Linked DNA regions of Homo sapiens: region 1 is linked to region 2. A link means that fine-mapping ties the variant in region 2 to the expression of a gene that starts in the linked region. Tissue or cell type: lung. Region 2 holds a variant in brackets; the other region holds the start of a gene. All regions are shown on one strand. Distances are between the middles of the regions.

Region 1 (5,139 bases), 64 kb after region 2:
TTGATTTAATCTATAACCGAAAACATAATGTATTAAGTGAATACATATTTGCTCAGCTGATAAGCTTTTTTAATATTTATTCGGAGAGCTTTTGCATTGTAAATAAATGGGTCTACACAAAGAGTTCTCTTTGTCTGGCAACTACATACAAAGGCGTTTGGGGCTCCCTTCCCTCTGGGGATCGCCAGCTCTCTCCCCGGGTCTAACAAATAGCTCGGCTCCCAAGCCCCGATCCCGGCCTGCAAAGCGAGCGCCCGGCCGCCAGGGCCCGGAGAGTGCTCTGGCGAGGGGGCTGCGAGCGCAGGGGTCAGGGGAGGGGCTGCCCGGGCTGGACTAGGGACGTGGGGGCCCCCAGCCCCGGCCGGCGCCTCCCGAGCCCCGGAGGGCGCCGGGCGGGACAAAGGGAAAGAAGGAAAGGGAGGGAGGTCAGAAACCTGCAGCTTCAAAGGCGCCGAAGGCCGGAGAGGGGCCGGGGGCTGCGCACGCGGGGGTGCCAGGCTTCCTGGCGGCCTCCAGGGAGTCGTGTGTGCTGTGCTTTTGTTTTGTGGTTGTTTTTTTTTTTTTTTTTCTCTCCAATAAGAAATTTCAAAGTTGAGAAAGCGCGAGCTGCCGGCGATTCTCGGGACGCGGGCTCGGCTACGAAGCAACAATTTTAATCTCCCACCCCCTGCGGGCGGATCGCAGGCCCGATTGTTCCTTTCTCACCAGCCTGCTCGACTTTTTAAGCAAACAGGAGGTGGATTACTGTCGCCTGCCTGCGCCGCCACGGCTCTGACCGGATTGGAGAGAGCTTTTCTTTGTGTTCTCTCCTCCCGGGGAGAGGCCGCGCCGCGCCTCCGCGTCTGCCCGCGCCGGGCTTCGGGGGCCTGGGGAGCCTGAGGCGGCCAGGAAGTGGGGCGAGGAAGGGCGGCCACACGGCCCGAGCTGGGAGTCCCACAGTCCCGCAGCGGCGACGCCGCCACCCGCCGAGTGCCGAGGCCCGGGGCCCACTCCCAGCCCAGCTCCAGGAGAGGCCGCGCCGGAGGACCGCGAGGACGGCGCCGCAGCGCCAGGTCGGGCTGAGGTAAGGGAGGAAATGGAGCGAAAAGTGGCGGCGGGCAGAGGGCCCCGGGCGGGCGGAGAATCGCTGACGAGGGCATTTCGGAAGGAACTGAACCTAGGAGCACAGGGCTCCCTCCCGGGAAGGCAGGGCGTGACCCTGGAGCCGCCGGTCCCTCTTGCCGCGGCCCCAGGCGTGGCTGGCGCGCTCCAGGATCTGGAGCTTCTACAAGTTTGCTTTGTTTCCTGCTTTTGCATCTAAAAACCCGCTCTCTCCTCGCCCGCCTGCCGGAGACCAGGACTCTGGCCCGTCTGCCTCCCTCCGGCGTCGTCTCCGGGAGCGCGGGCGCGGTGGGGCCTGCAGGCCGGGCTGGGACCAGGCGCGCCTTGGGGCGCGAGTGGCTCGGCCGTCGCCGCAGAACCCGCTCCCTGCGAAACAGCCGCACCCGCTCCCTGGGAGAGTCATGAGAACTGGGGTCGCGCCTGACCCCCGCGCCCGAAGAAAACCAGCCCGCGGACCCCGCCACACGGGCCGTGACCCGAGCCCCGCGCGCCGTCCCGAACGCGCGCGGTGAAAACGCCCCGCTGCGCCGGCCTTGCTCGGTCCCCCTCCTCCACCCCCACTTCTCCGGAAAAAAAAAATTCTGAATTGGGAACGAAGACCCGAAAAACTCGCCATGACCATTCCCCTCCCCGGCCCCTAGCTTCGGCCCGGAAGGCCCCTCAGGGCAGCGGCCGTGGGTACCACGACCCGGCCAGTTCCCCTCGCCGCGGACCGACCGGGCAGGGCCAACCCAGGACTGTTCCGGGGAGGGGAGCAGGGTAGGGGAGCGAATGTTGGGGTTCGTTCGTGGGTCACCCAGAACTGGGCGCACGCTGGCGGCGCCCGGACTTCGCCTACTGTCCGCCCGGTGCCACCCGCGCGGCTCGCGCCAGACGCAGCCTGGCGGTCCCTGTCCTGTCTTCGAGTATTTGTTTTTAATGCTGGGTGTCGATCGAGACAACAAGCGCTCAGAGCAAAGCAAGGATGCATTACGGGGGTAATTTTAAACCGATCGATAAGATTTTTCAGAGAAAAAAAAATCGCTCATAGTCCATATTTTTTAAGAAAAAAAAAAGCCTCAACATTTTAACGGATTTTGTTAAAAGGGAAGATATATACTTCTTAACATCACAATCCTGAATTTCTTTTGCTAAAAAAAATGTAAAACCCCAAAGCCAGAATAAAAAATAAAATAATAATAAAAATACAAAAACAAAAAAAAAATGAAAGCAATTTCAGTTACTTACTGGAGGCTGTTTCCTGGATACAACTGAATGCAATACAATTAAATCAGTAAATGTGACTTTGTTTTGTATTCCTATTGGTATTTTCAATGTGCTGACTGTTGCACTGTAAATGCACCGCTTCCACAACAACGACTCTAGCGAGCCCATCCAGAGCGGCTCTCAAACCTGCAGCCTGGCGCGGCGAGCCACGGGCCCTGCATACTAATAAGCTCGTGCCACTCAGCCCGGAACAGCCAGCGCGCTGATTGGCCGCGCAGCCCTCCACGGCCGGGAGCTCGTGCCACTCATTCGGCGTAAACAGGCCTCCCAATAGGCTGGCGCCGGGCCAGGGAACTGCCAATCAGGAAGCAGCGGGGCTACTACCAAGCCCGATGGCGCCTAATTCAAGCCCGGCGACTGCGCAGCTCCTCTGCGCAGATCATTGCTGCTGAATGGGAATGTGGTGGCGCAGGGCGGGAGAGGGAGCTGGAGCGAGCGAGTGCGCGTGTCCCGGCGGAGGGGGAGGCGTAGACACAGACACAGACACACACACACACATATATGTTTAATCCAGCAGGTCTAACGTTTGGCTTCTGCCGCACAGAAGGCCAAGGGAAGAAACACCACCACCCCTTAAAAGTAGCTGCTTTTTCTCCCTGGAATCTGTCTGGCAGGTGGCAGGTAGGCCAGACCTCCAAGCCCAGAGGCCTCCCCAGGTTGCCTGGCCCATCTACCGCTCTGAAGCTGCTGCCTGCCCGGACCCGAGCTCGCGGATGCACGCACGCACGCCCGCTGCTTGGGCAGCAAAAGCTTTGAATAGCCCGTCCGGCTCTCTCCTCCCCATGACCTGGGGATCAGACCCTGGGAAGTGAGTTCTGAGTCTCCAGCCGTCTACATTACTGGCTCTCAATTTTATCTCCCTCTGCCACACTTTGCAACAGAGCAGCTACTAAAATGAAAATCAGGGATTTATTGAGAAGACAAGGATTGCCCTTTCTTCATCTACACCTAGATTTAGAAAATATTTTCAGTTTGGTAATGGGGGAAGCGGGTATGGTGTGGTAAACCATGTATAGTATTTCTCAATGCTGCTCCCTGTCTGCCTATCTGCTAAATCCTCACTCCAACTAAAGCAAGCCACTGAACAATTTTTATCGTAATCAGATGCAAACCACTTCTAAAATATTCCGCAAACAAATATTTCTGTTAGAATTTGGTTTCCCACCCAAATGCTATTTATTCTCAGGGAGTCGAGGTGATGTCTTAGTGGCGATGGATACATTTATTTTTGCTCCTCTTTCTCCATGTGAATCTCTGCCTCCCCCTCTGGGGGAAAAAAGGATATTTAAACTAGGAGCCAACTGACAGATTCACACGCATTCGAAATTCTCCACCGTCTCATTCCGGCAGGGACACGAAAGAGTTAAACTCAAAGCCTGTTGTCTCTCTGTTTCCCCGCCCCCACTCCCGCTCCCGCGGGACCGCTGGGATTGGTTGGCACTCCGCCAGTGGACTGTCCATCACCGAGTGTAAACAAGGCGCTGATTGGCTGTTGTCCAGTCCGCACTGGGCCTCCTGAAAAAAGCAATTACTGGCTCCGCGGTTTCAAGGCGGCCCAAGGCCGCTTGATGAAAGGAGATAAGCTGGGGACCGTTTCCAGGATCCCCGCGGGCCGACCGGGGCAGCCCGGGAGCCGAGGTGCGGCGGAGAGCCCGCGGATCAAAGGAATCTGGAGAGAAAGGGGAAGCGGGCGGCCGGCCCCGGCCGGCCTTCCCCCCCGCAGGCCACGCCGACCTGGGGTGGGGGGCTGCGGGCCGCGGGCGGGGACTCCGGGATTTCCCGCCTGCCTGAGTCGGGGCCTACGCCGGCGCCCGCTTCGGGCGGCTCGGCCCGGAGGGGAGCTCCGGAGAGCCCGGGGCTCGCAGGTAAGCACCGGCGCTCCGCGGGCCGGGCCGGGGACGCAGGACAAGGCGCGGGGCCCACCCCGGCTGGCTCGGGAGTGGCGGTCGCGCGGGCCCGGCTCCCGTCTCCGGCGTCTCCCGGCTCCGGCGGCCGGGACCCCCCGCGGCCGAGCCCCTGGCCAGGCCCCAGGCCGGCGCCTTCGGAAGCGACGTCTGGCGGGCCGCGGGGCACGAGGGGGAGAGCCGGGAAGCGTAAATCCCCGAAGCGCGCGGAGATCCGATTAGCGCGCGGCTATTCATTAGGCTGGGGGCGATTGAATTAGGTCCCTGGGCGCGGTCGCCGGCTGGGGGTGTGTGGCGCCGACCCCCGGGCTCTTGCCGTGGCCTCGGGAGGCTGGAGCAGCGAGCAGCGGCCCCAGCGAGTGTGTCGGGGAAGCGGGTGCCTCCGGGTCCCGGCCCCGCGGGTGCAGGCGGAGGCTGCCCGCTTCCCGCGTACACCGAGGACGGCCGGCCCGGCTCCGGAGAAATGGCGCTTGAGAAAGGAGGGGAGGGGAAGGTTCCCGGACCCTGGGCAGGGACCCGTCGCCGGGGACCCGCGGAGCCCTCCGGGGATGGAGGAGGCGCGAGCTGGAAGCGGCGCGCGAGCCCGAGCGCGGGGCTAACACCGTGGGGCCCAGTCTCTCCTGGCTCGGGTAAGTGGACGCGCCCCGAGGCCCCGGGTCCACGCAGGGCGCCCCTCGCAGACGGCGCATTTCCTACTCTCCTAAGGAACCGAGTTCCCATCACTGCCTCCGATGAGCCTGTTTCCGGATCAGGAACCTTTTTCAAGTTAATTTTTAAAGCCTCATTTGAATTTTTTAATATAGGAAAATACGTATACGAGAAAAATCTTGGATGCAACAAAAAGAACACCGTGGCCACCCGTGGTGTC
Region 2 (5,139 bases):
AGATGAAAAAGGAGAGGGAAGGGCAGCAGGGGCGCATGAGCCCGCCCCGGTTTCCTTGGGAACCAGGAGCTCCTCCCGCCTCCCGCTGGACCTACCTGTGTGGGATTCCCCGACCACTTCCAGAGCTGCCGGGCGGGCAGGAAGGCTGAGATCTTTGGCCGGTTTTCCACGGAGGGCGGCCGCTGCCTCCGGGAGAGCTCTTTGGCTTTGGAGAAGCTCAGGGCCTCTTTGCGCTTGAGCTTGGATTTGCTGCTGCTGCTGGGGCCTGAGCCCGCACCGGTGCCAGCCACCGTGGCCCTGGACAGGAAGCAGCGCTGGGCATGCGCGTGAGGGCCGCTGCCCTTGGAGCGCAGGGCCTCGGGCTGGGCCAGGAGGGTGGGCACGGGGTGGGTGAGGCAGGTCTGCAGCAGCAGAGCCGGGTCCTCGTCGTCTGAGCTGTAGGACGAGTCCTCGTTGTCGGAGGAGCAGAGGCTGGAGGTGGACACGGAGCCTGAGGAGGAGGAGGTGGACGAGCCAGAGGAGGAAGAGGACACGGACAGGCGGGCGAGGAAGCGGGAGGGCACGCCGGCCGCCAGCCCCGGCCCGTCCTCGTCCTCGTCCGAGAAGGAGCTGTGGCAGTCGCTGTCGTAGGGCAGCGGGAACTCTGCCTGGCCCGCGTACTTGCGCAGCGCCAGCCCCATGGGCAGCGGGGGGATGGGTGCCCGCCCCTTCTTGTCCTTGCCCACAAGGGCCGGGTGCACATAGCTGGGGCTGGGCAGGGGCCGCCCGAGCTTGGGGCTGAAGTCCTTGTCCCCCATGAGCAACGCCTTGCAGGTCTTGTTCTTGGGGGAGGTCACACCCTCGTGGTCCAGCTTGACCAGGAACTCACCGCCCGCCCGCCGCCGCCCACCCTTCTCGGCCTCCACCCTCTCGGCCTTCTTAGCCCGCAGCAGCTTGTGGGCTCCCCTGGGGAGGCCCGGCCCGGTCCCCCCGACGAAGGGCGCGTAGGAGCTGGCCAGGCTGCTGAAGGAGTCGGCGCGGAAGCCGTTGCCAAATATGGGTGTGGCCACGCTGTGCACGGGGAACAGGGCCTCGCGGGCCCGCAGCTTCTTGCTGCTGCCGTTGAGCTGGAAGAGGTTCTGCAGCACCCCCGGCCCCTTGCTGGCCGCTGCCACCGCCTTCCGCTTGGTCTGCGCCACCGCGGACCAGCTCAGCAAGGGGCTGCCACGGCGGCCCAGGAAGTGGTCGGAGGCCCCCGTGGGGGATTTGGCACCTGAGGTTAGGAGTTCGGCTTTACCTGAGGGCAAAAGCCCAGCAGAGTCAGCCCCAGCTGGGCCCACAAAGCTGCCTCCACCTGCCCCTCCCCGGACCCTGCCTACCCCACGGGCCTCCTGGTTCCCCCAGCCCCCAGAGGGTGCCTTCCCCGATCCGGATTCTGGGAAGTCCGGTAAAATACCAGCTTTGTCTTTGCTAATGGATTTTTTCCCAGGTGTCTTCAAAGCTTCGGGGCCGTCCTGTGCTTTGGGGGACAGGCTGGGGGTGGCGGCTTCACTAGGCGGGGGTGCCTCACTGGATACCTTCTTGGTCCTCCGGCAGCTGCTAGACACTAGCAGGGCTGGAGAGGGCTCTGTGCCTGTGGATAGCATGGGCCAAGGGCTTCAGTGCCATGGCTGTGGGGTGACTGCCACCCCAACCCTTCCTTGGGAGCCCGTCTGGACACAGTGGAGCCCAGGCAGGGCCCTGCCCCGTGCAGCTCCCAGGCTCACACTGGATCTTGAAGTCAGGGGGCAGCAGCCTGACGTTGGAGACGGCGATGTGGCCTGTATCCCCATCGTCAAATTCCACCACTACTGAGTCCAGGTCCTCATCTTCGTCACCGGAGGCCCCTGTGGACGGCACACCTGAGCTTGCAGCTGGAACCCCCAGTAGGCGCCCGAAACAGGGAGGCGGGGCTGCCAAAGCCGGTGGGGAGGGTGAGGGGAGGGCTCTGGGGTTCTGCTCCCTGACCACACAGACAGTGGAGCCGCCCTGCAGCCCAGGAGCGGGGGCCTCCTCTCCACCTCCTGCAGTGCCTCCCATGTGATGCCACCGTCACCCCACCCAGCCCAGAACCAGACCTCCCCACACGTGCTGACGCCCACGTGCCCACCTCCCAGCCGAGTCCCGCCTGGAGGCGCCTCCCGCCCACCTGGCCACTTGCCTGTGGGACCCTTGAGCCTTTCGCCCTAGGGACCTACATGCCCCTGCCTGTAGTCAGGAGGTTTTGCCCAGGGGAGCTGGTGCCCCCTGACGTACTCTGTGACCCCCAGCAGCAGTGCTCAGGGCCCCTTCCTGCTGGGCCCTCTCTGCTTGGCTGGAGGCCGGAGCCCCCACCCTCCCTCCCCACACACCCTGTGCTTTTTCATGGCGCCTGGGGAGCTCATTTTATTGTCGTACTCTGTCTAAGCAGAGAGCTGGTTCTGCCCTCGCCAGCCTCGGAAGCCAGGCTGTTGGGGGCAGATATGAGCCTGTGGGTCTCAGAGGGGCCTGCCCCAGCCCCCGCTTTGGGTGCAACTTACCCCGGACCACGTTGCCCGGGTACAGACATCGAGACTTCTGACTCCAGTAGGCGCAGACCCGCGTGCCGGGCGGGAGGTACCGGCTGGACTGTGGCCGCACATCGAGAACCTGCAGGAACGCGGGCGACGACCCATGAGCAGGTGGGGCCTGGCCCAGGGCTGCCTGAGAGTCTGGTCCCTGGGCCTGGGAGTGGCTGCGGCCCAGGCCAAGGCC[T/C]TCCTTTGTCCTGGGACAAGCCAGCCAGGCCCCTCCCCGGGGCGGGCCGGCCCGGTCCTCACCGCTTCCTGCAGCAGCTGCTCCAGTGAGTAGATCCTCTGCCGGTTGCCCCTCTCGCCCTCGATGACGATGCTATAGCTGGGGGCATTGGGGAATGTGAGGTGCCACGGGTCTCGGTTGCCCTCCAGGCCCCTGCCCTGCCCCACCATGCCCAGGCCTCACATGTCGGGTGGCTGCAGGGTCCTGACGCTGCCCGCGTACAGCAGGCTATCCTCCTTGGGGATGAGCACGGGCAGCCCGTCCCGCAGGTCCTCCTTGTGGATGGCACACGAGCGCGCTGTGGGCACAAGGTGTCAGCGGCCGGCACGGCCTACCCACCACCCCTCCCCAGGCGGCTGGCACCCTTCCTGGCCCTGCTCACCTAGGGCGGCGCTCTGCTCTGCGCTCAGAGGGCCGCTGTCCTCCTCCTCTTCCTCCTCGTCCTCCTCCTCTTCCGAGAAGCTGCTGTTGTCGTCGAACTCAAAGTCTTCCTCCACGGCGAAGCTTTCCAGCAGGCGGCTCACGGCCCGGCCCTTGCCCTGGGGGCCAGAGGAGTCAGGCTTGGGTGGGGTGCAGGCGGGGTGCAGGTGGGTGCACAGTGGGCTCCCAGAGTGGGGGGCTGCTACCTGCTTGCCGGCCTTGTGCTTCACCTTGCTCAGCTTCCGGCCCTTCCCCAGGATGGCCTTGGCGTTGCGTGTGGCCAGCGTGATGGACAGGGCCCCGTTCTTCCGCTGCGCGTGGGCAGGCAGAGAAGGGGCTGAGTCAAGGGTGGGACAGCCTCAGGTTGACCCAGAGCTCAGGGGCCAGCGTGCGGGGGAGGGCGGGGAAGGCCTTTCCTCACAGGCACCCACCCTCTCCGCCCAGCACCCCAGAGCCCAGCCTCACCCGCAGCACTGGCTGCAGCACTGTGCCCTTGCGCGTGGCCCTCTTGAGGCGCTCACTGGCCAGCTGGCTGCCCTCCTCACGGCAGGCGAAGGCCCGAGAGGGGTTGAAGAGGGCGTCCCTGCTGGGGGTGGCCCCCGGCTCTGCCCGCAGGCTGCCCTTGGCCTTGCCCTTGGCTTTCTTCTTGCCCAGCGCACCTGGGGGCCTCTGCCCTGGGGCCCGCTCCAGGGTGGTGCCCACCTTGGCCTTCACCGACCGCCTCTTGATCTTGACCTCACTCTCAGGGCTGGACAGGCGGCAGGCCCCTGTGGGAAGGAGAGGAGGCCGTCACAGGGGTCCCCATCCTAGAGACCCGGCTGGTTGGGCTGACTGTGCCGGTCCTCCCTCCTGGTTACCTAGCAACCCCTGCCCGCCCCCGGGTTACCCAGCAACCTCTGCCCTCCCCCTCCTGGTTACCCAGCAACCCCTGCCCTCCCTCCTGGTTACCCAGCAACCCCTGCCCTCCCCCCGGTTACCCAGCAACCCCTGCCCTCCCTCCTGGTTACCCAGCAACCCCTGCCCTCCCTCCTGGTTACCTAGCAACCCCTGCCCTCCCCCCGGTTACCCAACAACCCCTGCCCTCCCCCTCCTGGTTACCCAGCAACCCCTGCCCTCCCCCCGGTTACCCAGCAACCCCTGCCCTCCCCCTCCTGATTACCCAGCAACCCCTGCCCTTCCTCCTGGTTACCCAGCAACCCCTGCCCTCCCTCCTGGTTACCCAGCAAACCCTGCCCTCCCTCCTGGTTACCCAGCAACCCCTGCCCTCCCTCCTGGTTATCTAGCAATCCCTGCCCTCCCTCCTGGTTACCTAGCAACCCCTGTCCTCCCTCCTGGTTACCTAGCAACCCCTGCCTCTCCTTCTTCTTCTTGGCCTTCTGGTTGGCCTCCATCTTGACCACAGAGGAGGGTGAGGGCCCCAGCACGGCCACACTGGCCCCGGTGTGCAGCAGCAGCCCTGCTTCCCTGGGTGGTGCCTCTGTCCCCAGGAGACCCTCGCAGTCCTCACTGTCATAGCCACTGCCTGGGAGAGAGGCAGAGGGGTCCTGATGACTTGATGGTAAGCTGTGCCATTGAGAGGTGGGGGAGGTGACCCTCTGGGCATGCGGTTATGGCGGGGCTGTGAGTGGAGCTGGTCACCGTCACCCTCTGGGCCGCTCTGTGGGGCTGCTTTGGGGGCAGGTGCCTGAGGTCCTGGCCTCCAGCCTGAAGGGATTTGTATGGGTGTGGGGAGGGGTGTTTTTTTCTTATACCCTGGGCAATAGGGCACCCACCAGGCAGGGCTGGGGCCCCCTCCCCAGAAAGTCCCTTCCCCTTTTTCTGCTGTCCTCCGCCCAGATGGCCCTCTGCCCCTCCCCCAGCCCCAAGCGGCCCTCCCTTTGTTCTTTCTCAGGCATCTGAGACCTTGGGGGAAGGGGCTGGCAGAAGAAA

Evidence for each region. PIP is the estimated chance that this variant, and not a neighbour inherited with it, causes the effect.
Region 1: it holds the start of BAHCC1, and the variant in region 2 is fine-mapped to the expression of BAHCC1 in lung (TOPMed, PIP 0.97).

Annotation. Positions count from the first base shown.
Region 1 is chr17:81,392,825-81,397,963 of GRCh38, reverse strand. BAHCC1 (BAH domain and coiled-coil containing 1) reads right to left here and starts at 2,507. Exons shown (of 28, transcript NM_001377448.1): 1 at 2,329-2,507. RefSeq lists enhancers at 552-1,160, 1,161-1,769, 3,853-4,410 and a silencer at 3,795-4,064.
Region 2 is chr17:81,457,003-81,462,141 of GRCh38, reverse strand. It overlaps BAHCC1 (BAH domain and coiled-coil containing 1), which reads right to left. Exons shown (of 28, transcript NM_001377448.1): 17 at 4,550-4,732; 18 at 3,676-3,977; 19 at 3,417-3,521; 20 at 3,173-3,329; 21 at 2,974-3,088; 22 at 2,814-2,889; 23 at 2,538-2,646; 24 at 1,746-1,865; 25 at 1,436-1,612; 26 at 96-1,276. Among named protein-coding and RNA genes, the nearest start is that of MIR3186, 8.4 kb to the right of the region's middle. RefSeq lists an enhancer at 4,371-5,139. The variant T/C (reference allele first, on the strand shown) is at 2,752.